Regions from separate parts of the Homo sapiens genome. Here all the other regions are linked to region 5. Evidence: fine-mapped expression QTL. A gene starts in region 5. Each other region holds a variant in brackets. All regions are shown on one strand. Distances are from middle to middle. Region 1 overlaps PGM2 (phosphoglucomutase 2). Region 2 overlaps TBC1D1 (TBC1 domain family member 1). Region 3 overlaps PGM2 (phosphoglucomutase 2). Region 4 overlaps TBC1D1 (TBC1 domain family member 1). Region 5 holds the start of TBC1D1 (TBC1 domain family member 1). Region 6 overlaps TBC1D1 (TBC1 domain family member 1). Region 7 overlaps TBC1D1 (TBC1 domain family member 1).

Region 1 (4,067 bases), 42 kb after region 5:
TGCAACTTCTGCCTCCTGGGTTCAAGCAGTTCTCCTGCTTCACGCTCCTGAGTAGCTGGGATTATAGGTATGAGCCACCACACCTGGCTAATTTTTGTATTTTTAGTAGAGATGGGGTTTCACCATGTTGGCCAGGCTGGTCTTGAACTCCTGACCTCAAGTGATCCACCTGCCTCGGCCTCCCAAAGTGCTGGGATTACAGGTGTGAGCCACCGCTCCCAGCCTAGTAGAGTCTCTTTCAGTTCTAGCCTGCGGTTTTTAACTTACCACGCCCAGCTAATTTTTGTATTTTTTAATAGAGACCGGGTTTTGCCGTGTTGGCCAGGCTGGTCTCGAACTCCTGATCTCAAGTGATTTGCCCACCTCAACCTCCCAAAGTGCTGGAATTATAGGCATGAGCCACCACATCCGGCTTCCATATATTTTTTATAGCTTATTTATAATCACGCCTAAGTGCCTAAAATCAGCTTCAATTAATTGTATGGTTAAATAATTTATTCAAATTATTTTAAAAGGTAAATAGAAAAGAGGTTAGTTGAAAAGAGAAGACATTACTTACAGCTTTTTTATCAGGTTGGCTATCATCATAGCCAGTTGTAAGGTCCCTAATGGCAGAAATTTCAAATTTGCCACAAGCTTTTGGATAATTATTTTTTCCATCGTAGTTTCTGAGGTTTTCAAATAATTTCTTAATGGTTTCTTGATCATGGCAGATAAAATAGGAAGCTTTAGTAATATGGTAGCCATACCTATCAAACAAATACAAATTCATGCACATGAGGAACAAATAATTTTGTAGGGTGGACACAGAACATGTACCAACCAGTGTATTCTAAAATAAATATGGCTGGGTGTGGTGGGTCACGCCTGTAATCCCAGCACTTTGTGAGGCCGAGGCGGGCAGATCACCTGAGGTCAGGAGTATGAGACCAACCTGGCCAACATTGAGAAACCTCGTCTTTACTAAAAATACAAAAATTAGCCGGGTATGGTGACAGGCACCTGTAGTCCCAGCTACTCCAGAGGGCTGCAGCAGGAGAATCGCTTGAACCCAGGAGGTGGAGGATTCAGTGAGCCAAGATTGTGCCATTGCACTCTAGCCTGGGCAACGAGAGACTCCATCTCAAAAAATAAAATAAAATAAAATAAATAATAAAATAAATGTAACAGCCAAAACTGACGCCAAAGGAATAATTTTTAAAAGACCATTAAAACAGAGGTCTAGGCCAGGCACAGTGGCTCACGCCTGTAATCCCAGCACTTTGGGAGGCCAAGGTGGGTGGATCACCTGAGGTTAGGCGTTTGAGACCAGCCTGGCCAATATGGTGAAACCCCTAACTCTACTAAAAGTACAAAAATCAGCCAGGTGTGGGGACACCTATAATCCCAGTTACCCGGGAGGCTGAGGTAGGAGAATTGCTTGAACCCAGGAGGCAGAGGTTGCAGTAAGCCGAGATCACACCACTGCACTCCAGCCTGGTGACAGAGCAAGACCCCGTCTCAAAAAAAAAAAAAAAAAAAAAAAAAAGAGGTCCAACAATCTACCCCAGGGATCACCAAATGACTGCCTGGTCTTCCGCCTGCATTTGCACAGAGAGCCAGGTCACACGCATTTCTGTATTCTCTTTGGATGCTTACGCACTACACTGGCAAGGCAGAGTTGAGTAAGTGCTACAAAAAAATGAATAGATGTATTATGAAGACATTCAATCTTTTTTGATACTGGACACTTAAAATCACATTCTTTCATGTTGTCATTTGTTAAGAATTAATGCGATCGGGAATAGTAATTACTAACTTGTTACATATCAAAAGGAAAAGGTGATCTCTTTAGTTTTTTTAAATTTTTTTTTTTTTTTTTTGAGACAGAGTTTAGCTCTTGTCACCCAGGCTGGAGTGCAATGGCGCGATCTCGGCTCACTGCAACCTCTGCCTCCCAGGTTCAAGCAATTCTCCTGCCTCAGCCTCCTGAGTAGCTGGGATTACAGGTGCCCACCACCATAACCAGCTAATTTTTGTATGTTTAGTGGAGACGGGGTTTCACCATGTTGGACAGGCTGGTCTCGAACTCCTGACCTCAGGTGATCCACCCGCCTCAGCCTCCCAAAGTGCTGGGATTACAGGCATGAGCCACTGTGCCCAGCCTTATTTAATTTTTATAAGAAATAGAATTCATCACCAAAATAAGAGCATTAGAAAGGATATTAGTATCTCATGCATAAGTATATAATAGAACATTT[CA/A]AAATATTATTTCAATCCAACAGAGTCAATAACAACTTACTCCACATAAATGGCCTTTAGTTGCTGAGACAAAGACAAATTCTTGGTTGCTAGGAAGCTAGCCAACTCTGCACTTATGACAGCGGCACTGACTCCATCTTTGTCCAGAACAAAAGGGCAGCACATGTATCCTGCAGAAACACACGTCATACATACATCTATACAATACTGTGTCAAACCACATATGAGTATGAATCCTGGCTATTGCATATTAGAGGTTGTACAGTGTTGCGTGTATGCACATTTCTCATTAATACCTTATGTTTAGGAATTTAGCCCAGTGCCTAGCCCATAGCAGGCCTTCAAGAAGTATTTGCTGAAGAACCTGCAAGATTTTCCCTCCTGGCCACATGGTGCTCAATCACTAGAGTCATGAAACTCCTTCCAGCTCATGAAATTGTTTCTAATTGTCCTAGTCAATACATATCTCTTTCTTCTCTGAATCCCAATAGTATTTGTTAGTTACATTATTCATTTTGACATCTGGCCTCTACTCTTGTGTGTGATTACTTAACTAAATCTATCTAAGCTGCTGTAGGCTAAGGTCAGTGCCATCCATTTCTTTTAGAGTCACTGAGTAATAGACATGCAATTAATACTTGATAAATGAAAGAAAATCTTTCTTAAAATAAAAAGCTACGGAAAGACAAGTCTGCCAAATCTGACAATAAAAGAGCAGAACCTGAGCGATTATGCTTTGATTAGTTAAATCATGTGTTAGTGTTGCAGAGAATATACAAATGAATATAAATAAATCTAATGCATAATAGTTTTTACTAAATTAATAGCTAAAAGCGTTTGGTACAATGTGAGTTTCAAATTTCTATAGCTAGTTCTCCTTTCTGTTCATTTATATTGACAGTTTAGGACAAGGGTTTTTCTGTCATTCTGGCTGGACCTGGGTCATCCTTTTGGGTGAGTATCATTCTGATGACAGCAGCAAACCATGCCTTCCTTCTCCTTTCCTCTGGCTAGACCGTAGCATAGATCCTCATTAGCACTTTTGGAGGAGGAGGGACATTAAATACCACAGTGTTTAGGCCTGGATATTAACCACCACAGTGGAGGAAACATCACAACTCCCAAAATACATGTACCGGCAGCCAAGCATACAATGTCACTGTTTTGAGTCATCCAGGCAAAGGATTCTGACATGAATGACTTAGTTGTTTTTAAGACATTCCTTTTGGCTGTAAATCATCTGAGATGTCAATTTTGGAGTAGGACAGTTCGACATTCAACCTGAGTGCTGGAGAGGCAAAATAAACCGTGTTTCACTGTGGATCTTTGAATCCCAATCCAAACCTTTTCCTTTTGCCTTGCAGCCAATTCCTTAATGTTCATGATCACTTCTTACCAATAGCTTCTTCAAATGCAAATAAAACAGTTTTCCCCTGGTCTATTAGCTGTTTGGCTCTGTTTCCCATCCACTTAAAGCCAGTTAATGTTTCCTAAAGGGATAATCCAAAAGAGAAAGACATGCCTTAGATCTTCTACAGAGCAGATGAAAGGAAAATGAGTGAGTCCCAGAAACACCCTACCTCAAAATGAAAACCTTCCTTTAAGGCAATGGCCCGCAAGATTTTGGAGGAGACGGTGCTGGACAACATGTACGTGTCTTTGAGAGCACTGCGATCCTGGTTCTTCTCTTTCCAAGATGTAAAAAGCCACCAGCCCAGGAGGGCCCCCAACTCATTGCCTGAAAACACCCTCCATTCACCACTGAAAGAAAAAAAAAACAACAACCACCATTCATTTCCATAATCTTAAGGAAGACTCTAAAGTGT
Region 2 (4,067 bases), 92 kb before region 5:
AAATCATAGAAATTTTAAAATGGAAAAACCAGATACTTAAGATTAGATTCATAAATATCATAAATATAGGCTGGGCGCGGTGGCTCACGCCTGTAATCCCAGCACTTTGGGAGGCTGAGGCAGGCGGATCACAAGGATAGGAGCTTAAGACCATCCTGGCCAGCATGGTGAAACCCCGTCTCTACTAAAAATACAAAAAAATTAGCCAGGCATGGTGGCGCGTGCCTGTAGTCTCAACTACTCGGGAGGCTGAGGCAAGAGAATTGCTTGAACCCGGCAGGCAGAGGTTGCAGTGAGCCGAGATCACGCCACTGCACTCCAGCCTGGGTGACAGAGCAAGACTCCATCTCAAGAAAATATATATATCATAAATATAACCAAATAAAGGTCTTCCTATAGGTTGTACAGATGTTCGTGAATATTACTGTGCATTCTAAAATAAAATTCAAAAGCACTAACATTTTCTTTTTTTTTTTTTTGAGACAGGGTCTCACTCTGTCACCCAGGCTAAGTGCAGTGGCACAATCTTGGCTCACTACAACCTCTGCCTCCCAGGCTCAAGGAATTCTCGTGCCTCAGCCTCCCAAGTAGCTGGGATTACAGGTACACGCCACCACACCCAGCTAATTTTTGTATTTTTCTAGAGATAGGGTTTTGCCATGTTGGCCAGGCTGGTCTCAAACTCCTGGCCTCAAGTGATCCACCCACCTCAGCCTCCCAAAGTGCTGGGATCACAGGTGTGAGCTAACACTCCTGGCCTAACATTATTTCTATTCCTTAAAAGTCAATCAAAAGAAAGGGAGTAGGACTACATCAGCTGTCATTAAAGAAACATAAATTAAAACATCTATGAGGTACCACTACACACCTATTAGAATAATCAAATTCCAGAATACAACATCAAATGCCTGTGAGGAGCAAAAGAAATTCTCATTCATTGTTGATGGCAATACAAAATGGTATAGGCACTTTGAAAAGCAGTTGAGTGCTTCTCACAAAAACAAACATAATCTTACATTACAATCTATCAATCATACTTCTTGATATCTACTCAAAGGAGCTGAAAACTCATATCCACACAAAAACCTACACAGAGATGTTTATAGTAGCTTTACTCATAATTGCTAAAACTTGGAAGCAACCAAGATGTCCTTCTGTGGGTGAATGGATAAACTGTGGTACATCCAGGCAATTAATATGATTCAGCACAAAAAAATGATCAAGCCATTTTAAAAAAAAAAGCACACAGGAAACTTAAATGCATATACTTAGTGAAAGAAGCCAATCCGAAAAGGCTACATATATACTGTATGATTCCAACTACATGACATTCTCTATAGGCAGAACTATATATACATGCTCTATAAATAGTATGAAGATTAGTGGGTTGCCAAAGGCTTATAGGAAGGGAGGGATGAATCGATCACAGAGGACTGGTAGGGCAATGAAACTACTCTGTATGATATTATAATGCTGGATATACGTCATTATACATTTGTCCAAACCTGTAGAATGTATATCACCAACAGTGAACCCTAATGTAAACGATGGACTTTGTGTGATAATCATATGTCAATATAGATTCATCAGTTGTAACAAATGCACCATTCTGGTGAGGAATATTAATAACAGGGGATGCTGTGCATGTGTCCCCTGTTCTTCTGTTTCTATCAAAACATCTGTGAGTTTACTATGAAAATCACAAAGCTTGAGAAGTTCAGTGGGGACAGGGGCTATATGGGAAATCTCTGTAACTTCCACTCAATTTTGCTGTAAACCTACAACTGCTCTAAAAAATAAAGTATATTTAAAGAAAAAAGGGAAGAAGAAAAAGCTGGGCACAGTGTGGTGAC[C/T]GTACAAAGCATCATACAGAATGAAATACACAGCTATAAGAGTTTGGGGGAGGGATGGCGGACACAGTGGCTCACGCCTATAATCCCAGCACTTTGGGAGGCCGAGGCAGGTAGATCACGAGGTCAGGAGATCGAGACCATCCTGGCCAACATGGTGAAACCCCGTCTCTACTAAAAATACAAAAATTAGCTGGGTGTGGTGGCACCTGCCTGTAATCCCAGCTACTCGGGAGCTGAGGCAGGAGAATCACTTGAACCTGGGAGGTGGAGGGAGCCGAGATCGCACCACTGCACTCCAGCCTGGTGACAGAGCGAGACTCCGTCTGAAAAAAAAAAAAAAAAAAAAGAGTTTGGGGAAAGATCATCTTTGGCCCCTAATGGGTCTTCACTGCTCCAGAATAAAATACCAAAGGGGTCTGTATGCCATGCTCATCCTGGTCCTCATTCGCCTCTGCTACTCCCCCCAGCAGTCTCGCTCCAGGCCCACCAACCTCCTGTGAGTGCAGCTCCACCAAGGGGCCTCCAGGCCTTAGCATACGCTACTCTAACTGCCTGGCACAACCTGCCCTTCCCGTTATTCTCTGCCCTGCTTAGTACATTCGTCAATGAATGAATGATTAATCAGAGGTGCTTCAGGAAAGGAATGAAGGATGAGGAGAGTTTTGATAGAAACAGAAGAACAGGGGACACACATACAGGTTAAAATCAGATTAAAGAATTTGTCTAAGGAAACAAATTATACTTTATCTTTTTTTCTCATCAGGCATTGCTCTGGGCTGTGTTCTATTTGTGGATTAGGTGGGATTTCTATCTCTGCTCTCCTCCATTCTCTTTCAGTAAAACCAACCTACGCCCAAGTTCCTGGCACACTCTAAGCAACTAGAGTTCCCAAAGCCCAAAACACAGCTGCCACCACTACCAGATAAAAAGTGCTCCACAGGAACTCTGCTGAAATCCTGGTCAGGGTTATACCAGCTTTGCTTAGCCGAGGCAGCACATTTTTCAAATTCAAGGAATGGTTTGACTATGACAAGGAGTTCTCCCCTCCTTATTAAACTCAAGCATCCACTAATAAAATGTAGTATGAGTCTACAGAAGAAAAAAAAATTTTAAAACAATACATCACATTAACCTAGGACACACATCAAGGACAAACCAACACTGGACTGACTTCAAGCAACACAAGAAAATTGTTGCCTAAATATTTGCTATAGTCAGATTCACACCTTACATAGGAAGGCTGCTGTGCTGTGTGCTGGTAAACAGAAGGGCAACTCCTACCGCCTACCGGCACCCAAGGTGGGCTGGTCTAGTCTGCAGGAAACCTCAAAGGTAAATAAATAAGCCCAGAGTCAGGACAGAACTTTGCATGGAAGCTGTGCTTAGAAGAAAGAGATGATGGAAGGGCAAGTTGTACTCGTACTCAACATATAAATAGCAATTAGTTACTCGGTTATTTGCACCAAACACAGACAAACAAGATAGCAAAGCCACTGGGTCACATCATTTCAAAATACAGACAATGACTATCCACTGGTATTCCTTTCTTATTACTGAGGTCCAAGCTACCACTATCACCTCCTATCCGAACCAAAACCACCTCCTAAGTGGTCCCTCTGCTTCCATCCGAAATATACATCAGCTGACATCACTCCTCTTTTCCACATCTTTAACGGCTTCTGACTACACTTAAAAGCAAATCCAAACCCCATTCTAAGCCTATGGAGCCATAAACAGCCTGGCCCACCTTACCCCTCCCCACTCAAAGCTCAGTGCTGTGCACCCAGCTGGATATATTCCAGCCATACCTCCCTTCTCCCTGAGGCCTGCCTGGAGCATGTTTCCTGCCCTCTCACCAGTCAGATGGAATGCCACCCCTGCACCACCCCAGCCCGGAGCCACTTACTTCTCTTCCTCGCACTGATCACCATCTGAAATAATCTTGTTCACCTATTTGCTTGCTGCTTTGCTATCTCTCCCATCTAGAATTCCATGAAAACAGGGGTCTGCTTGTCGGTTGCTAAATCCCCAGCTCCTCAAATAGTACCTATTATAGGTAGGTTATCCATAAATATCTGCACTGAACACATTTGTTAAATGACCTGTTGAATGAATGGTGGCTAGATAAACCAATGTTTTAAAAGTAATGCCCAAATACGGAAAACCTGGTTTTACATAAAATATTAATTAGCAATCAGTTACTTGCTTTACAAA
Region 3 (4,067 bases), 54 kb after region 5:
TGTGGCAAATGACATTGATTACACACAGGCAACCTGAGATTTAAATTGTCCGTCCCCTCCACCCTTTCACCAAGAATCACTGCAGTCATTGAACACCCTGGAAGTTATGTCACATCTCTCAGGTGTTCTGGGCCAAAGAAAAGGGGAGGACGACTCCTCAGTGTGGGCAGAGGATCATGATACACTGGTTCAATTCATGTCTGACATAAAATTAATAGCTATTAACACTTAGTACAGAAGGTAATTAGGATGCTTGAATACATGACAATTTTTCCATCAAACAATGAAACCTGAACTACATTTAGATGTGAATAGAGTGTCTAGCAGGTTATTTACAGCCTAGGGGTGCTGCATCTACCTGTCAGTGCACTAGAGCCGGCAAACACAAAATGAATTGGAACCTCCTTCTGTAGCAATACAGTCTCATTTCTACTAGATGTGACTAACTGCATCCAAATCACATTTTCCAAAACATATTCTCAGCATCTGGCCCAGCTCTTAAAAGTTTTGTCTATGTCAAAGCAACAACTGTCATAGTCCCTACTGTCTTCTTCTTTAGATTGTGCTACATGAAGGATTTGATGAAAGTCTTACTCAAATATGCCGAGCATGCTCTCTGTACTAGCCATGAATAGTATTTAGAATAAAACATTTGTATAAAACAGGGGTGTGCCAGCTTGTCAAAAATATTCATGACAAGACAGGGTTTGAGGTGAATTCAGATTTCGACACAAGAAGTTTCCTAATTGTGATAGCTGAGAAAAAGAACTACAAACCAAATTTAAAAACAGAGAAAAGGCCGGGCGTGGTGGCTCATGCCTGTAATCCCAGCACTTCCGGAGGCCAAGCTGGGTGGATCACCTGAGGCCAGGAGTTCGAGACTAGCGTGGCCAACGTGGTGAAACCTCGTCGCTACTAAAAATGCAAAAATTAGCTGGGAGTGATGGCAGGCACCTGTAATACCAGCTACTTGGGAGGCTGAGGTAGTAGAATTGCTTGAACCCGGGACACGGAGGTTGCAGTGAGCCAAGATCGTACCATTGCACTCCAGCCTGGGCAACAGAGCGAGACTCTGTCTCAAAAAAAAAAATTTGCTGACTCTCTCGAATACCCTTAGAATGCAAAGAAAAGGAAAACTGCAATTTAAAAAAACCAATTCCAATGAATCAAAAGTTGAATACCAGAGAAATATTACTAAGATGTGGGAGAAACATTCCAGGAGAGAAGGAAATGTCTCATACATGCCAAGGAACTCCTCTGTCATTCAAACAGTCCAATCCCAATAGCCCTAAAGACTATAAAATTCAGCCAAGTCCCATCCCTGATCATGTGACAGGAAATTATGAAAGGAAATGGCTACTTACCACAAAGGGGGTTGGCGTTATATCAGAAAAGAGGTACACAGGAATCCCCTGACTGATAAATGTGGTTGCAGCAAGTCGGGCAAACCTGAGAATGCAGAGTGACAGGGAAGAAAAGGAGAGTTGAGTGATCAGGACTGTGAGTGATGGAAAGAAGGAAATGAATGCTGAATGTTCTTTAGGGTGAATGCAGCATCCAGATCAAGGACAGCATTTATTATAATCTTTACCCTGGCATGGGACAGTAAAGCTGGAGGACTCTCAGGAGTCATCTCATTTCACTCTTTTGTTTTATAGAAATGGCACTAAAGCCAAGAAAGGTCAGGCCCCTTTCCCCGGTTCTAACAGCCACTTAGTGGCAGAGCCAGGCTGCTTCCTGGCCTTTCAGCTCTCTGTCTATCTCAGTGGTTCTCAGCCAGGGCAAGTCTGCACCTTCTCCTTCCAGGCATCTGAAATGTCTCGAAACATTTTTGCTTGTCATGCTGGGAAATGGAGAGAGTTGCTACTGGCAGCTAGTAGGGAGAGGTCAGGGGTGCTGCTGAACACCTTACAATGTACCCTACAACCACAACAAAAGATCATCCAGCCACTGTGCAGTCACATGTCAACAGTGCAGAGGCTGAAAATCCCAGCCTAAGCCTATCACAATCCAGCGTACACCACACAGACTGGAATTTGATTAGAGATTGCTTTATTTGAAATATAAAGACATCCTGGAGTACGCATGTGTGTATACACACACACACACACACACCCATACACATATATACATCTTGGTTCCAATCAGCCTTTGAAAGAAAACTTAATTCTTTGACATTTTTCTCAACTTCCACAGAAACTTGCTTAGGGTAAGACGCAGAAAATGGCATCAAATCTTCCTTCAAGCTGGTGTAAAATACGTTACCACAAATAAATGAGCGATTTACTTAGAATGAACAACATTATACCACCCCTGTGAGTTAAACAATCAGATCATTCTTACTCTCCCCAAATACTTCTTGGGCACTAGCTTCGCCGACACTATTCTGAAGGCTGGCTGGGGCACAAAGAGCAGATCGCCACTCTCTCTCTCTGTTACAAATGTGCACAAAAAAATGCAATGC[G/A]TTCTCTGCATATACTTAACAGTTACTGCTTACGTTCCCCACCAGATATTTAAAATTGGAAGATTAAAGGATAAACATCTCCTCGGGCGAAATTCAGAAACTGCAATAGTTTCCAACTCCTTACGAAGATTCCATTCACTCATCATGAATATTTTACCATGTGTTGGTTAAACACTTACATTATGATCTCTAAATGTCTCACGCGTTACAGGTGATAGAGAGTAGCCTTGAGTTCCACTCCATCCCATCCCATCAAACTCTGAGACTTGAACCATAAGCTTAAATCAGTAACATCACTCACTTTAAGGAAATGATACGGCTCCAAGGCCAGGGCAAAAAAATCTGTACCTTAATTGATAATGTTAACATATCTCTGAAGGTTGTATCAACCAGAAGCAGGGCAGTCAGCCCAAAATGAAGAAATTTACGCAGCTCAGCAGACAGACTTAGCCACATACGTGCACTTTGCATGCTCTGAGCAAAGGATCTGACTTGCCCTGGGGCGGCAGAGGAACACGGTCACGATTTAGTTCTGATTGTACATCCACTAACTGTAAATGACAAGCTGATATGCTGGTTTATACCACATCATTCTCTTGTGAATGTAGTTCATGTGCATCTATCCCCCAGAGCTATAACTTTTCTCTTGCTTTATTGACAAAAAGCACATTTTTGAGCTGCAAAGCTAAAGACTAAAAATCTTATGCCCTCCTGAGTTGAACCTGGGGCTGATGCCACCGGGTGATTTTCCCCGGCTATGCACCCTTCCTCACGGCCACACGTTTGTCCCCACGAGTGCTTCTGTCTTAGATTGGAAGCTCCTGATGGGCAAAGATAGGACTCTATAAACTCATCCAGCTCTGTAAAGCTAATAAGACTTTTCATTAATATTCAATATGTGTAATTCTAAGCTACTACTAATACTGATACTCTAGAATGATTAAAAATTCATCATAACAGAGGAAGTGTTCAAGTAAAAAAGAGGGTTATGTAACATGGTTACGGGCAGGGGTTGGTAACTACAGCCCATTTTGTAAGTAAAGTTTTACTGGAACACTGCCATGCTCCTGTGTTTATGCATTGTCGATGGATGTTTCTCTGCTTCATGGGAGAGGTGAGTAGTGGTGATGGGAATCATGTGATATGCAATGTGTATGATATCCACTATTTGCCCTTTAGAGAAAAAGTTTGCTGACCCCTGGTACTAGTGTCCTTAGGCTTAAATTGCGACTCCTCCTTTCACATTATAATCTCAGGGTAAAGAGATAAAAGTACATACCTTACACGTTGCTGTGAGGATAGAATGAGTAAATACATAAGTGTCTGGTTCATAATCAGCACTCAAATGATTGCTGCTATTACTATTATCATTGTCACCATCAGCATCATATGCCTTCAGCTACATAAGAGAGTCCCATTGGTTTGAGAATGTTTCAGAAATGCAGCTTGACGTGGGCGTTCAAGAGAGGGAAGGGGGTCATGAGGTTTATGAATAGCAGGGTAAAAATTATGTATAAAAAGGCAAATGAGAGGGAAAAATAATATTGCCAGTTTAAGAAATTTCTTTCTTTTAGCTAGGTATTACATTCTAAATTGTCTAAAT
Region 4 (4,067 bases), 100 kb before region 5:
AATAAAGATCAGCCTTAAGGGGAGGCGCAGGGTAATGAAATCTTACTAATGTAATTCTCTCCTTTAGAATGTATTTAGTAAAATCTTTCATTTCACAGACATCTTAAAAAAGATTCTTCATAGTGTTCTGATTCTCTCTCTCTGTCTCTCCCTCTCTCTCAGGATGGCATCTACTCCCCAAAAACTAAGAAAGATGGTTTCTTTCTCTACATTTCCAGCTCTGAATTCTTTCCTAAACTTCGCTAACATTTCCAATCACCTATTTAAAGAATCACCAGGCCGGGCGCGGTGGCTCACGCCTGTAATCCCAACATTTTGGGAGGCTGAGGCAGGCGGATCACCTGAGGTCAGGAGTTCGAGACCGTCCTGGCTAACATGGTGAAACCCCATCTCTACTAAAAATACAAAATTAGCTGGGCATGATGACACACGCCTGTAATCCTGGCTACTCGGGAGGCCAAGGCAGGAGAATCACTTGAACCCAGGAGGCGGAGGTTGCAGTGAGCTGAGATCGCGCCACTGCACTCCAGCCTAGGGGACAGAGTGAGACTCTGTCTCCAAAAAAAGAAAAAAAAAAAAAAAAGAATCGGCCAGGCATGGTGGCTCACACCTGTAATCCCAGCACTTTGGGAGGCCGAGGCGGGCAGATCACGAGGTCAGGAGATCAAGACCATCTGGCTAACACGGTGAAACCCCATCTCTACTAAAAATACAAAAAACTAGCCGGGCGTGGTGACAGGCACCTGTAGTCCCAGCTACTCGGGAGGCTGAGGCAGGAGAATGGCGTGAACCCGGGAGGCGGAGCTTGCAGTGAGCCAAGATCGCGCCACTGCACTCCAGCCTGGGTGATAGAGCGAGACTCCGTCTCAAAAAAAAAAAAAAAAAAACACCAGACTTCTAGTCCTTGACCTTAAAATATCCACATCAAGCTCATTCTCTTTTCCTTAAAATAGGCCTTTCTTCCTACTTCCTTGTTTCCCAAATGCCTTCTAGGTAACTGGGCTCAAAACCTGGTAAGTGGCTTCTGCTCTTCTTTCTCCTTACTCCTTCTTTCCCTCAGCTCTTTGGGTGTATATTCTCTCACCACGAGCCCAAAACCTCAAGCGCTGGTCCGGGCCTACACTTGCTTCAGCCAGACCCCAGCAAGACCTCTCCTCTGCCGCCTCTGGCATCTCCCTACATCCATCCTGCTATCCAGCACAGCCTGATCTTCTGGAAACACAGGTCTGATGGGGTCAGCCTCCTGCTCACAAACCTTCTAGGGCTCCTCTGCAATCCCTACCAGAACAAACACAGTCCTGCTAACCCTCAGGGTCTCCCACCAATGGGGCTCCACTCAACTCTTCCTGCCTTATTTCACCTGGCTTCTTTCTCTGTAAGTTCCGTTTGTACCAAACATGTTTCGAACACACCTCCTAAGCCTCTGTTCATTTGGGTTTCCACCTCCATACCTTTGCTCATGCAGTTTCTTCCACCTGGAATATTCTTTGTCACCCCCTGGATGGGACCTTTGAATCACTCACTCACCTTATTCACTTTCGGGATGAAATGCAGCCACAGGAGGCTGGAATGGCTGGCATCTGGTCACAGAGCCAGGCTAGACACAACTAGACCTCCCCAGTAAGGACTGGTTTTTTAGGCAACACTGGGTCCCTATGATTTGCTTTTATTTGGGATAAAATCGTCCAGTGTAAAATTTCCTTATTAGGCTAAAACCTCTAAGCCCACTAAATTTAAAAAAAAAAAAGAGAGAGAAGAGCTGCCAGTGCCCACATTTCCAGGGACTTGCAGGAATTCTCTGAAACTCACAAGCCTTACCAGGTCTGCATGCTCGTGTTCAGCAGCAGGTGCTAAGTGACTGTAAAGGGCTGTGGTGCCCACCCTGGGGTCTTCATGCAGGGCTTGAGGGTAGAGTCACCCTCTGCCCCATAGTGACAGGCCAGCTGGGCTCCACTGCCTCCATCTACTCAGTCAGGATTAGCACAAAAACTTGTTAGAGAGGTTTAAAGAGCCCCCAGATCAGCGGAGAGGTACTCCAGGACACTGTGGACTGTTCTTAACACCCACACCCAAGCCAAATCTCTGGCACCCAGAATAAAAATGATGTTTTTGAG[AAGG/G]ACAATATCTAAGTTAACAGTGTATAGTCAGTTCTACTTATCCCTGATCAAAATTAACCGTGAGGTTGTAAAGTGGGATTTACTACATTTGGGAAATTATTACCTCTGTATACCAAGGGGCTACTCAGAGGTTTACAGTTCCCCACCTGCTTTCTGGCAGGCTGACTCTGTGACTGCCTTCACCACCTTCCCCCCACCCACCCCCGCCCCAGGTCAGCAGCTGGGTCTCTCTCATCTTGGCAGTTGTGTCTCAAGTGCCTGCCACAGAGTAGAGGCAAAAGAAATAGATTGTGATCAACACTGAGCTTGAAGCGGCCAGATTTCTTGACCAAGAACGTCTGGAAACACCACACTACTCCCCCAAATAGTGTAGTTATTGCAAAACAAATACAGAGTTGTGTGGTCTGGTGGTCTAGTACATCCAGCTCTTTCCTTGGGGAAAAATATCCAGAGACCACATTCTCAGCTGATTAACACACTAGAGAATTGACAAAAATCAAACTTTGGTACGATGTTCTTTCAGTTACACCAAAACTGGATGGCACAGACTTGAAGGGCTGCTTTTACTGAAACACTAGTGTGATAAAAATCCCTATGTATTATATTCACATATTTCTGGAAATGGAAGGAGAATCCCTTCCCTTCACCTGGAAATTCAGGAATACAGCTTTTTCTGGAACCGTAAGAAGGCTTTGGCCTTAGATGTACTAGCAATATTTCATGCTTATTATACAATTAATTGATTAATAATCAGTACACAAGGGGCCACAAACTCCTTACTCATAAGCGGGCTTTTGGTTGTGTTTCTGAAGTCAAATTTTACAAGTTCTAATACAGGGGTATCCAATCTTTTGGCTTCCCTGGGCCACACTGGAAGAATTGTCTTGGCCCACACATAAAATACATTAACACTAATGATAGTTGATTAGCTTAAAAAAAAAAAACTCAATGTTTTAAGAAAGTTGATGAATCTTTTTTGGGCCACATTCAAAACCATCCTGGCCTGTATGTAGCCCACAGGCCGTGGACTGGACACTTGCTCTAACATTTTAAACTTGGAAACTTACATATTTCTTTTAAAAGCCTAACACAATAGAGACTGTCACAATAGACCAGTGTAAATGTCCCTAAGCAAATAACGTCTCAAAAATCTGACAGTTTATTTCCACCTAATGACTGGTTTCCTTTGGGCCCACCCTTTAAAAAGAACTTCCGCAAAATACCACTTGGCTAATTCTCTGCCTTGGGCAGTCCTACAATTATAAATTCTGCTAAACAAATAAACTTCCTTCCTATTTTTAAAGTATTCCAAAATTGGAAACTCTGTGTCTTTGGTTGGCAAACTATTTTCTGGAGTCTAACAGCCTTAGCCATGAAGAAATTCTTCATTGCACTCTGAGAGACGAAAAAAACCAGAAACTGTCAAGGAGTCCCTCCCTACACCTATTTCAGGGAAGGGGAACTAACCCCACAGAGTTGTGACCTTGGGCAAGGTCACACAGGCTGCTGGTGGCAGAAGCCAATGTCCTCCTCTCTCCCCCATTTTCCCCTTAACTGATCTAAGTTACTTGTGGCCTAAAGAAAGCAGTTTGCTCTTGTTCTGTACTAGGGAACAGGGTTTATGTTTAATTCATGCAGAATGTGCTAGAACAACAGAAAGAATCTAAATATTAGTGTCAGCAAAAAGAATCAATCTCCGTAAAACATTTAAAGAGATTTATTCTGAGCCAGATGTGAGGACCACGACCCATGACACAACCCCAGGAGGTCCTGAGAACACGTGCTCAAGGTGGTCGGGGCTATAGCTTGCTTTATACATTTTAGGGAGACATAAGACATCAATCAATATATGTAAGGTGTACATTGGTTTGGTCTGGAAAGGTGGGACAACTTGAAGGTGGAGGGGAGGTTGCAAGTCATAGGTGGATTCAAATATTTTCTGAGTGGCAA
Region 5 (4,067 bases):
ATCTGGACCACAAAAAAGCCACCCGCCCACATCTGGCTCTGCATAGGGGTACATCTCATTGTCATTGCAGCCTTCCTGGTCAAAGCTGTCTTCTAGGGAAGTGGGGGACAGGGATTATCACCAGCTGGATAATGAGGAAGAAGGGGCAAGCTCTGTTGCTTCAGAGTTGCACGTTTCCTCCTAATACCCACTAGTGTTTTGACAAACTGTGCCTTATGGGACACCAGGTCAACACTGCATGACTGCCACCCAACCAGAAATGCTGTCGTGGTGAAAAGGGGAAGCCCCAGCACTCTCAGTGGGGTAGATAACAATAGACTATGACAAGGAGACGCATTTGCAAAATTTTCCTTTGAAAACGTAATGTAATAATTTATAACTACACTAGTGATTTTTTTTCCTATTCTCCTGGTTTGCAAATGGCTGGACAAATCCACAGGAAAGAAATTATTTTAATTATCACCTGATGATTTTATTTCCTGCTTTGAACCACTTAGTCCCTTCCAGGTCTCCTTGCACTCAATAGTGTTAGAATGCTCTACTTGTGTTCACTTCAGAAAATGTCCCCTAAACTCTTTTTTTTTAAGAGATGGGATCTCACTTTGTCACCCAGGCTCCAGTGAGGTGGCACAGTCATAGCTCACTATGGCCTCGAACTCCTGGGCTCAAGTGATCCTCCTGCCTCAGCCTCCCAAGTAGCTGGGACTACAGGTGGGTGCCACCACCCCTAGCTCATTGAAAAAGTTTAGAAGTTTGAACTTGTACAGATAGCTGAGTTTCTTGGGTGTGACCTATTTAAACCAGGTCATTTTTAAATGCTCTTTCAAAGTCTGATTTTATTAATAAATGAAATCATCCCATCATAAGGGAAACAATGAGAAATCTATGAAGGGAAAACATATCCATTAATATGAGGCACCCTGAAAATTAAACTGTTTGGTGGAAGGAACAACCATCACTTTCAATTTCTTTTTAAAGCAACTTCCAGAGAATAAGCTATGTTAAGTAAAATCAAAACAGGAAAAGCCACATCTAGGTGGATTTCAAACGAAATGATACCTCTCTGAAAAAAAAGCAAAAACAAAACCTTAATGCCTGGTGAAGTTTGAGGGGGGTCTCATAATCACAGAGCCATCAGGAAGCGGCTAGAAACAATGAAGCAGGGTTTCAAAATGACTGGTACAGGATGTACCCATAGAAAGAAATGTTGCGCGCACTGGTGGAGCTGCCAAAGTTACTACTGCAAAGTACCCTGAACTTTTAAAGCGTGGCTTGGGGTCACTCTGACCACACTCTTTCCAATCTGGTCGCCTTGCAAACACGCTAGGATAATTGGCGGGAGGGGGGAGGGGAGAGATGCGCGGACCAGTGAGCTGGCGGGGGTTGGGGGAGAAGCCGGCGGAGCTCTCGGGTCGCTAGCAACATTAAGGTTTCGCTTTCGTCCAAGGGCGGCGGGGGTGGGGGGGTAAGGGGGGCAACGAGATGGCAATGAACTTCCTCCCCCGAGAGACCCTGGCCTCGCGTCCGTGGGCGGCCAGATGCCTTCCCCTCCGCGGCCAGGCGGGGCAGGGGCGTGCTGCGGGAGGGGGCGGCCGCGACGCCCCGAGAGGAGCCAGCAGGGTGGCCAGGACGAAGCCCCAGGAAGCGCCTTACCTGTGCCGCGGCGCGCTCAGAGCCCGGGGCCGGGCCGGGACGCGCAGGTGCTTGGGGGCATCCTGGGGACGGCCTGGGCGGGCGGGGAGTCCATCGCACCCGGCTGGCTGCGCTCTTCCCGCCGCGGGGGGACGGGGAGGGGGCTCCCCTCGGCTCGGCGCCCGCCTCTTCTCCACCCAGCTGAGGACACAGCAGGTCCCGCGGCGGCGGCAGCAACAGGCACCGGCGGACGGTGGCGGCACCAGGAGCAGCAGCCGAAGAGGAGGAGGAGGAGGAGGAGGAAGAAGAGGAGGAGAAGGAGGAGGTGTCTGCGCGCGGCTCTGGTTTCCTCCTCCCAGCCTGGGCGAGCGCGCTGGAGGCGAGGGGAAGACAGGAGCCGGGATCTCCCCACTCGGTCCCCGGGGAGCTGGGAGGGGGACTCGGTGTCCTCCTCCTCCCCACTGCGCCGTGTGACTGTGCCTGGGCAGCACGGCCCGGACGGGCGAGTCACACGCGAGCAACAGCTGCTGCACTGCGGGTCCGCCGCGGCCTCCCTCCCCTCCTTGCCACCCCCCGCCCCCAAGCCCGCGGGCCATCCTCAGCCAGTGTCTGTGGGGGGAATAGGGGGGAAGTACTCGGGCCGCCGCCCCATCCAGACCCCTGCGCAGGATCTGGGCACAGCGTTTCCCTGGGGAGCCGGGGGCGCGGGGCCCCGCGCGTGATGCAGGCCCTCGTGGCGGGATGTACAGTCGCACACCCTGTCCTTGGCGGCCTATTTATAGCAGGTGGCACTGCCCGCCGCTTGCTCGGCCTGAGTGGCTCTCAGCAGGTGGCACTGCCTGCCCGCTCTCCGCGCTCCCGAAGGCGCCTCGCCTCATCTGCACCCTCCTCTTCTCCCTCCGAAACAGACGTGGTGGAAACTGCACACAACATGGGGGGCGGGGGCCGGGGGCGACCAAGCCACCTTGCTCTCCCCCGCCTTACCCCTTCTCCCCGTCCTTGGAGGATGGCAAGAGGTGAACTGAGGCACGGATGCCCTATGGGGCGCTGGCATGCGAGGCAGGAAAATCAGGGACTCTGGGAAACAACGAAGGCGAAGTGCCCTCCCGGGATTAAACACCAGGAAACTCCATTTCTAACCAATTGCGGGAGTGACGCAGAGCCTGGATTAGGCGCTTTTTCCTGCCCCGCGAGCCCGGCACACGCGCAGGAACACACACCACACGCACACGCACACCCCAGTGTGCATGCCCCGATCAGGTCTGGGGACATTCCCAGCGGTGATGTAGAGTGCAAGGAAAGACGCGGAGATGTGAAAAGCGGGACAGAGCTCGCTCCCTAAGACTAGGGGATGGCAGTGTGCAAAAAACAGGCGAAGCTCCCAGATCCCTATCCCACCAGGCACAGAGGCGCAACGTCACTCGCAGGGTGGGGAGAGGGATCTGAGAAAAGTAAGAAGCATCACATCCTCTCCAGAGAAGAGTCCGCAGGGAGGGGAGAGCCGGGTGCTCGGAGGAGGCAGTTCCAGACCCCCAGGTGGCATCTTTCTGGATTTTTTTACTTAATGTAGCTGGGGGTGGACTTTAGGGAAGTGGCTGAGCGTTTGAGCTGTACGGTTGGACTTGAATCCAAATCCCAGCAGGTGTGGTTTAGGCAAGGTGCTGGACCTCTGGTCTTCATTGTCTTACCTGCTAAATGGGACCAATACACACCTTACAGGATCTTTGTGAGGACAAAGCAGGAAAGTGTAAGTAAAGTGGCCAGTGCAGTGACACAGACGTACATGGTCCTCAACTAAAAGCAGCAGCTATTATCAATATTACTGTGGCCCAGGAGGCAAATAGAGGGCCAGGTTTCCTCATCGTACCAAGAGCAGTGTCTTCCTTGAAGCCCACTGAGCTTCTTGTAGGCTTTTAGATTAGGGCTGTCTTATGGCATTCCCTGATTTCCCTGGATGCTTACATCCAGGGGAGGTATTTTTAAGTGGACCCAAGAGTTTTATTCACAGCTTGACTTAAAACTCTCACAATAGTGGTAGCTATTCTTTACGGAGGAGTTAGTCGATTTGGGGTATTGTGCTAGATACTGTCCTTATATATTGTTGCTAATTTGCTCAAAAACTCTGCAGGGCAAAGATTGTTAAATCCATTTGACTAAGGAGAAAAGTAAGAGGTTAGTGCCTACAGGGTTAGTGGGTGCTGGAATCTCCAAGATCCAAAGCCCTTTATAATATACTTGCTCTCTGGCCACTGTGTAGCCCTCAGCTCATTCTTTGTCATTGAGTAGTTATTTGTGTGCATAGCCTCAACTCTTTTTTAAGAAATATACAGTCATAAATACTGTAATGAGTAGAATGTTAACTGGGTTATGGAAATTATTCTTTAGGTTACAAGACCAGGTAAACCAGTTAAACCATATTGTTATCACTTGGGTCA
Region 6 (4,067 bases), 110 kb before region 5:
AGGTGTTGCTAGGTGGCAGGCCCAAAGAGGCATGGAAGCTCTAAACACCCCAAAACCCCTTCCATACCTTGCCTTACGTATCTCTTCCATTTGGCTCTTCTTGAGTGGTATTCTTTCTTTCTTTCTTTCTTTTTTTGAGACGGAGTCTTACTCTGTTGCTCAGGCTGGAGTCCAGTGGCGCAATCTTGGCTCACTGCAAGCTCTGACTCCCAGGTTCACGCCGTTCTCCTGCCTCAGCCTCCCGATTAGCTGGGACTACAGGTGCCCGCCACCATGCCCGGCTAACTTTTTGTATTTTTAGTAGAGACGGAGTTTCACCGTGTTACCCAGGATGGTCTCGATCTCCTGACCTGGTGATCCGCTCGCCTCAGCCTCCCAAAGTGCTGGGATTACAGGCGTGAGCCACCGCACCCGGCCTTGAGTGGTATTCTTTATAATAAACCAGTAAATGTAAGTAAAGAGTGTTCTAAGTTCTGTGGGCCATTCTAGCAAATGACTGACCCTGAGGAGGAGGTGGTGGGAACTTGATTTATAGCAGGTCAGTGGGTATCTTGGGGCAGTCTTGTGAGACTGAGCCCTTAACTTGTGGGGTCTGTGCTAACTTCAGGTTGTTAGTGTCAGAATTTAACTGATCACTGGAGACCCAGTTGGTGACCAGAGAATCAGAGAACTGGTTGCTGGTGTGGGGAAAACTCTGACACATCTGATGTCAGAAGTGTTCAGTGTAGAAACAGATCATGGTACTGTGATTTTATTGATGTTATAGTCACAGGAACTGCTACAGGCTGAGGATCCCTAGCCCAAAAATCCAAAATCTAAATGCTCCAAAATTGGAAACTTTTGAGCACCGACATGACACTCAAAGGAAATGCTCATCAGAGCATTTTGGATTTTCAGATTTGGGATGCTCAACTGGTGAGTACAATGCAAATATTCCAAAGCCCTAAATCTACAACACTTGCTGGTCCTAAGTATTTCGGATAAGGGATACTCCATCTGTAATGCTACTGGGTTTGCTGACTACATTCAAAATCAAAGAAAATATTAGATTTTCAGTTACTGGTTAGTGAAAATAAAGATGTGAACCAAAGAAGTCCAGAGGATGGGAGGTATCAGCTACATCTCAAAAATACAATCACCACCACCACGAGTCATGTCTTGGGACCATGGTGCATATGTATTGCATATATGAATAATGCAATAAAGCCAGCCCCACCATCCAATGCAAACAAATCCACTTGAAAATGAGAAAGCCTCGCCAGACGCTATAGTCATCAAAGAAATTAAAATCAACATGAAGAGCAAACTCTAATGGGGCAAAACTCAAGTGTCCATTAGTTAGAATAATGGAATTAATTTCTACACAGTATAAATTCTTCATCAATACCAGCACATTATAATCTTTTCAAATGTTACAAGTACTCAATTTTAGTCTGATGTGATTTATTGCCTAGCTAGTCCTTGGAATACAACAACTCAGTCCAATACAGAAACAGATGGAAAAGCATTTTCAACTGTCAACTTGGTATTATCACTGCCAATGGAAAAACAAGAAAAGCATACCCAATAAATACCTTTGATATCTCATTTCAATAAACTGTTAATTAGGTTGCAGCTCACATCTGACAACCACTGCAGGCAAGTGGGCAAGCCTTTCCTCTAGAATGTTCTTCCACTGACTCTCCTCCACTAGTGTCTGCAGGTTCTTCCAGATCCAACCCAAATGTCTCCTCCCCTCCCTCCCCCCACAGGCCTGCTCTCCCAGGTCCTGAGGGCACCTGGTCTTCTGCTGTAACACCTGTCATAGCCCTGAGCCCTTCCCCTACACCACGCGCTGGG[G/A]GCAGGATGCTGTTTGATTCGTTTCTGTGTACTTTGCGGGCCTACATCAGAGTATTTGCTTAACACACACACTTTAATGTGTGAGGCAGTTTCTGTTTCTCTAAAAGTGTAAAATTCATAATGTAACAGTAATTCACTTCGATTAAATATATTTACTTGAAAATACACCAAAGTGTTGTAGGTAAACTTTACCTACAACATGTAGGTTAAACATGAAAGAAACATAAAACCCTTCCACTTTCTTTTTTTCTTCTGTTTTTGTTTGTTTTGAGACGGAGTCTCACTCACCCAGGCTGGAGTGCAGTGGCTTGATCTCAGCTCACTGTAACTAACGTCTGCCTCCGGGTTCAAGCGATTCTCCTGCTTCAGCCTCCAGAGTAGCTGGGATTACAGGCGCCCACCACCACACCCGACTAATTTTTGTATTTTTAGTGGAAACAGGGGTTCACCGTGTTGGCCAGGCTGGTCTTGAACTCCTGAGTTCCCAAGTGATCCACCTGCTTTGGCTTCCCAAAGTGCTGGGATTACAGGCGAGAGCCACCGTGCCCAGTGGAAAAGCCTTCACTTTCTAACTTTACCTAATATGACGTAGGGAAAGTGTGACCAACAGTATTTTATATAATCAAATACACATGGAGGAACGTAAATTTCTGACACCTTCTCTTCAACCTGGTCATTTAAGTTAATACAATATCTCAGGCATCAATACCACTTATCAGGCCCACTGTGTGCCAGAGGCCATGCTTTCAGTGGATTACATCTCATTTAATCCTCACACCAACACTCTGAAGAAGACACCCTCATTCCCGTTTTACAGAAGGCAGACTATCAAGTCAGAAACTGTGCTGTGCGCTGGGCTGAAGAGTGGGGACAGACAGGTAACATGATTTAGAAAACAAGGCAACAGAGGCAAGGAGACTGACCACGTGCAAAGAGGGGAGGTCAGGAGGGGAGGGACAGAGAAAACCACCTAAGAGCAAGGAGGCCCGGTTGGTCAGGGGAGGCAGACGAGGAGGGAGGTGTGGAGGAGGCCCAGGACAGCCCGACCCAGCTGCCAGCAAACAGCTGAGACTGAGACAGCTGAGGACTGCGAGGTGGGGACTTGGCCAGGTTTGCATTTCCAACGGATCACCAGGGCTGCTGGGGAGAGAATGGGCTTGATGGACATAACAGCAGAGGAAGGATGACAGGCAGAAGGATGAAGTGGCAATGGCTCATTCACCTGCCTTCGTCCTCAAGAAGACAGTCGCTGGAGACAGGGGTCTTGTAACCCAGTGCCTGGCGCTGCCCCTCACACCCAGAGTGAATACATCACTGATGAAGGAAGAGACAAGCAACTGAGGAGAGAGAAGTGACGATCTCACCTAGGGCAGTGGCAATACAAATGGAGAGGAGAGGATGAAGTCAAGAACTATCTAGAAGGTAAAGCTGGCAAGAAGTGGTAACTGAACGTGACAGATGAGGGCTGAGGACGGGGAAAGGTTGGGAGGGTTCAGTGGCTAGATGGCAGAACCACTGTGACCAAAAAAAATCCAGAAATCCGAATACAGATTACAACTCAATATTTACTCACATGGGTTTTCTCTTCTCAAAGACATCTTATCCCTGAACAAAAAGTGGGAACTGTGCAGACAGTGAAACCAGGGTGTGCTGCACCTCAGAGAATAATCCCCTCGCCCATCCACCCTCAGTCTACTCTGGCATTCTGGCAAAAAATTCTCTTTTAAAAAAAAAAAAAGTAAATGTATATGAACAGCTGTTATTTCTTCTACTTATTTCCAGCAAAAGAGACAGAATTTTCAATAGTGCTTATTAATAAAACAGATCTGGAAGGGACTACGTGTGGTGGTCTCTGGGTGGTAGGAATATGTATTTGGGCTTATCAGTATGTTATTTTTCATATATATGTATTTTTGTAATCATAAAAAAGGTTATTTTTAATTTTTTTAAAAGTACATTTTTCTTAAACTTTAGTCTTTTCAAAGTTACCATCTACTGCTACTAGGTAAAAACTTCTAGGGGCAAAATCATTTGGAAAGAAGAAAAAAATCTTCATCTTAGGATAAACTCTTTTAATGTACAAGTGAAACGGCATACAGTTCTAAGTGCCCCCAAATGCTTCACGACATAACACACAAAAGCCTTTAAGTCAGGAAGCACAATACAGTACAAAAACAAACTTCCAAATAAACCCCAGAAACCAAAAACTTTAGATGGCAGTCTAAAAG
Region 7 (4,067 bases), 230 kb before region 5:
AGAGCTGAAGTCTCTTAAATGTAAGAAACTACTAATAACCTGTGCTGGTTTCTACAGCTAAACATTGCCACCATGTTTCCATGTGGCATTTCACCATGACGCTCACAACACACACACTCACGATCATTCCACACGTTTGTGATATGCCTCCTCCATGCCAGGCATCATGCAGAATGCCGTTCAGAACACAAAGTGGTAGGAAACAGTTCCTGCTCAAGAGAGATTTAAGTTTCTACATATCTAGGATGGCTTAAGCATTTGCAAGGTTTGGACTGACTCATACCTGATTGATGGTCTTTTCCATCTGTACCAAGCCAAGGTTGGGTAGCGTGCTTTTTATAAAGTCAACTATGGTTTCTAGGTTTTCATGCTGCAGAATCAAGGGCTTATGGCTTCCCAACAGACTTAAAGCCACTTTAAATATGACCTCTGTTCCCTGAAGAAAAATCATATCTGAGAAAACACAGAAATGCAGAAAGTTAAACCAGACCAGTTTCTCACGCAATACCATTCCATTGCCTTTTCCACACATCACAGAGCAGGAGTGTGGGAGACATAGCCCCACATTGCAAACTTTATTTCATTTTTAAGAGCCTGATATCTCAGACAGTGTTGTCAAGACAGTATTGCAAATAAAAGTACATAAACATTAAAAATTATGTTTTACTCTGAAAATAAAATTCAAACATGCTTCAAAAGTTAAACTGGGAAAGGGAAAAAGGTTTTATTAGTCTATTTTTCCAGGAATGCTCCTGGGTTTTAAAGGAGATACTAAAACATGTTTTTATGGGTCACACTAAAAGATTTTTATAGATAAAGCATCAGAAATTAAGATAGAGTAAGTGAAAAAGTGTCTCTGTTTCCTCTGTTTTGAAACAAGGAATAGAATTCAAAGATCTTTAAAAACTGTACAACAGCTGTACAACTGCAGAAGTACTTTGTTAAATACAAGTTTACTGATTTTTAACATGATAATGGAATAAAGAACATTTTTCCCTCTGAGGAGTTCAAGAACTCTGTCAAGGTTACTTCCTAGTTCTGGCCATATTTTGTTCTTAGAGTGGCTGGCAAATGGATGCAACTTCTATACAGACTGCAGAATAAGAGGGAGGGCACCGGCCAAGGCAAGCGGCCGAGCAGCAACCCTAGCCCTGTCTCACCTTCCTCATAGAGTTGAAGCTGCTGGGGAAAAAAAGAGTCGATGTCCTGGGGTTAAAGCAGAGCCACGATAACTAATTATTGGTTGACTAAACTGAGGCAGGTTACCTAATAACTAGAATAATAATATAAGAAAAAAACAATTTTAAAAATCAGAGTAGAAATATAATTGGAGGCAAGTGTCAGTATTTCTTTTCTCTGTTTCTTTTGGCTGAAAGATAATGGAAGAGAGAAAGAAGCTGTAAATTTCATCAAATCAAGGAAAGCAAAAGCAGGTGAGAGGAATAACCTTGCAGGGTGCCTCTCTAGATGGTTAATATGATAACATTTAAAAGCCACGAAGAAACAGAAAAGCAAAGACTGGGTGCTGCTGTGCAAATGGGAAACTGAATCCCTGTAGTTTCTGAACAAAGCACAGGCAGAGATGACAGACCCAGGAGCCCGCTGGCTGGGATAGCCCTCGAGATCCTCTGTAACCACCACAAAACCCTTAATTAACCATGTGAGCTGAGATGGGTGCAGCCCTAAGCCATGCCAGCGCTGAGATCAGCCTGCTTCTCCCACCCAGCTCAGGGTCCACACTCTTTCCACAAACATCACAACTACTGATGGCTCAGGGTGGCCGCAGGAAAGTGGGGAAGATGAATCCTTCACTTCCTTCTTAAGTCTGGTTGTTGAGGCTGGGAAGATATACTAGAGAACTAACTGTGTCTTTGAAATCAGAGCTTTTCAGGGTAAGTGTTACATACACCAAGGCAGGCCAATTGAAGAATATTCCTCTGAAATATCTGGTTTATAAAATGTAGTCTACCTGTATAATTCCCCACTACAGAAAATAAAAAGATCTAAAATAATACTATAACAAAGATGTATTTTTAAACAGAAATGACATTTCCAGAAACAAAACTCTAAAGTAAATTTGAAGTTTCAGTGGTTTACACAGTGAGACTTCCTAGACCTCCTTTCAATATATGAACTTTTATAGCTGAACAAAAAATGAGGGCATCTTTCAGAATAAAAATCAAGACCTTTTTTGCAGGGATCCTGGGGAAAGGCTTTCCCTACAACACCAGTGATTTTCTATAGCTTGGTCTCTACTCTCAGAGGGACAAGTGCCTTAAATTAGGTACAGTACCACATCTACGCCAATTAAAATAAACAATTACTGGGAAACTTTTGTCAGCACAACCAAATACAGAATCCACATCAGTGGTCTCTTTAGGTTAACAGGAGATCTTCTGAGATTTATTAGGATCTTGGTTTTTTT[A/TA]CAATAAATCAACTTAGTAAGTGCTTCCTATGATTCCAAAAGGAGACTTTCCCGGAAAGGAAATTTGGAGGGGAGAGGGTGGTGTTATGTGTTTTAAAGTCTCTTTATTGATATGTTAAAAAATTAAGACATAGCACTGGGCATATGATTTATTTTATTATATCTGTTTGTATTTAATGTAATTAAAAAATAAATGTTCTTTCCCAATGCTATTCACAACACCTTAAGAGAACTCTGCTGAGAGGTGTCTTCTACTTTAACTTAATGAGCATCTATTGAGCATCTAATACACATCAGGCACTGTATTAGGCTCTGGAGATTAAGCCATGAGCAAAACACAAAGAACACGCTGCAGAGACACCAAGGAGTTCTGGTTCGGTAGAGTTATGCCCAGGGTGTTACGAGAACAAAGAGGAAAGAAAAGGCCCACAGAAAGGTGACTGCTTGAAGAACCAATGAAAATTTCCTAGGTCAGACCTCAGGATTAATACTCTGAATAAAAGGAAAATAGGGTGTCAATACAGGGAGGTGTGCAGGAGCCTGAAAAACAGTCTGGCTGGCAAGGCAGGGGCACTGGTTGTGCAGGGCAGAAGGTGGGCAAATGGGGGCACGCAGGTCCAGATCACCAGGGGCCTCTGCCCCAGCCAAGCAATTCTAACTTCCCCTGGAGCACCGCAGGAGTCGCTGAATGCTTATTGTTCCTTTTCTCACTAGGTCAGTGCACTGGTAAGGAGATGATGTTAATGAGATGCAGGTTATGGGTATGACCCCTGCAAGGGCTAGTTAGTGTCAGAGAAAGGCCACCTTTGGAGACTACGCTGATTGATTCCTGCCAGAGACTCCCAAATGCCTGCTGCCAGAGATGCTCCACTCACCACCACTCCTCCCATTCAAAGCGTCCAACCCTCCAAGGCCGGAGAAAGTTCAGCCCCAGAAGCTTCTGTGAGACACAGGGGGTCTTAAATCGGGAGATCATTTGGGTGCACAATGCAGGAATGTGCTTGAATTCAGAGTTGAAGGAAGGACTGCAGGAAGCTTTGCTTGGGAGGAAGGGCCTCCTAAATTTGTCTGATGACACTTGGGGACAACATCTTCATCCTTTAAAGCATTTGTACCGTTTTTTGGCTTTGGAAATTTTTTTAAATCACATCTAATTTTAAAACAATAGTAAAGAAAAATGTTACCTATAAACCCACTGCCCCAAACCAATTATTTTTATTTTGCCTGTCTTCCGGTATCTTATACATTTACATTCTGGAATTTTTTAAAACAAAACAAAACAAAACAAAACAAAAAAACAATAACTCTCCTTGGAAAAGTGAGCAAATGTCCTGCATTTGAAAACCTCCCTAGGAGACAGTGAACTGTTGGAGCCGCCCAGCGCAGTGAGGCAGTAGCCTAGCTCACTACACTGTAGCCCACGTCCTTTCAGTGGGACTTTTCTCCTGCCTCTTCCTTCTCTCCTCTCCTTTTTCAAGCCACCTAGAAACAGGCAAGACGTTTTATCCGGCAGGAAATAGGAATCTTAAATTCAGCTGACTCTATTACTTTGCACTGTATTCGCTGGGAACAACACAAAGGAACTGCTTTTCTTTGAGGACATTTCAGCAACCCTCTTATTGCGTTACTGTGTATTGGAACT

What was found. PIP is the estimated chance that this variant, and not a neighbour inherited with it, causes the effect.
Region 1: its variant is the best candidate, but not a certain one, in a credible set for the expression of TBC1D1 in whole blood (INTERVAL, PIP 0.89).
Region 2: its variant is the best candidate, but not a certain one, in a credible set for the expression of TBC1D1 in whole blood (TOPMed, PIP 0.64).
Region 3: its variant is the best candidate, but not a certain one, in a credible set for the expression of TBC1D1 in prefrontal cortex (ROSMAP, PIP 0.80).
Region 4: its variant is the best candidate, but not a certain one, in a credible set for the expression of TBC1D1 in thyroid (GTEx, PIP 0.78).
Region 6: its variant is the best candidate, but not a certain one, in a credible set for the expression of TBC1D1 in whole blood (TOPMed, PIP 0.74).
Region 7: its variant is the best candidate, but not a certain one, in a credible set for the expression of TBC1D1 in whole blood (INTERVAL, PIP 0.52).

The regions. Positions count from the first base shown.
Region 1 is chr4:37,846,866-37,850,932 of GRCh38, reverse strand. It overlaps PGM2 (phosphoglucomutase 2), which reads right to left. Exons shown (of 14, transcript NM_018290.4): 9 at 3,822-4,002; 10 at 3,638-3,731; 11 at 2,282-2,411; 12 at 560-749. Among named protein-coding and RNA genes, the nearest start is that of PGM2, 22 kb to the right of the region's middle. The variant CA/A (reference allele first, on the strand shown) is at 2,241.
Region 2 is chr4:37,981,254-37,985,320 of GRCh38, reverse strand. All of the region lies in intron 2 of TBC1D1 (TBC1 domain family member 1), which reads right to left. Among named protein-coding and RNA genes, the nearest start is that of PTTG2, 23 kb to the right of the region's middle. RefSeq lists an enhancer at 3,040-3,139. The variant C/T (reference allele first, on the strand shown) is at 1,854.
Region 3 is chr4:37,834,911-37,838,977 of GRCh38, reverse strand. It overlaps PGM2 (phosphoglucomutase 2), which reads right to left. Exons shown (of 14, transcript NM_018290.4): 4 at 1,365-1,449. Among named protein-coding and RNA genes, the nearest start is that of PGM2, 10 kb to the right of the region's middle. The variant G/A (reference allele first, on the strand shown) is at 2,465.
Region 4 is chr4:37,989,314-37,993,380 of GRCh38, reverse strand. All of the region lies in intron 2 of TBC1D1 (TBC1 domain family member 1), which reads right to left. Among named protein-coding and RNA genes, the nearest start is that of PTTG2, 31 kb to the right of the region's middle. RefSeq lists an enhancer at 191-360. The variant AAGG/G (reference allele first, on the strand shown) is at 2,115.
Region 5 is chr4:37,888,935-37,893,001 of GRCh38, reverse strand. TBC1D1 (TBC1 domain family member 1) reads right to left here and starts at 1,918. Exons shown (of 22, transcript NM_001396959.1): 1 at 1,654-1,918. RefSeq lists enhancers at 1-50, 481-610 and silencers at 311-360, 1,390-1,889, 2,210-2,399.
Region 6 is chr4:37,997,289-38,001,355 of GRCh38, reverse strand. The region is part of intron 2 of TBC1D1 (TBC1 domain family member 1); the gene reads right to left. Among named protein-coding and RNA genes, the nearest start is that of PTTG2, 39 kb to the right of the region's middle. RefSeq lists a silencer at 137-315. The variant G/A (reference allele first, on the strand shown) is at 1,840.
Region 7 is chr4:38,121,348-38,125,414 of GRCh38, reverse strand. TBC1D1 (TBC1 domain family member 1) reads right to left here. Exons shown (of 22, transcript NM_001396959.1): 20 at 284-453. Among named protein-coding and RNA genes, the nearest start is that of PTTG2, 160 kb to the right of the region's middle. The variant A/TA (reference allele first, on the strand shown) is at 2,426.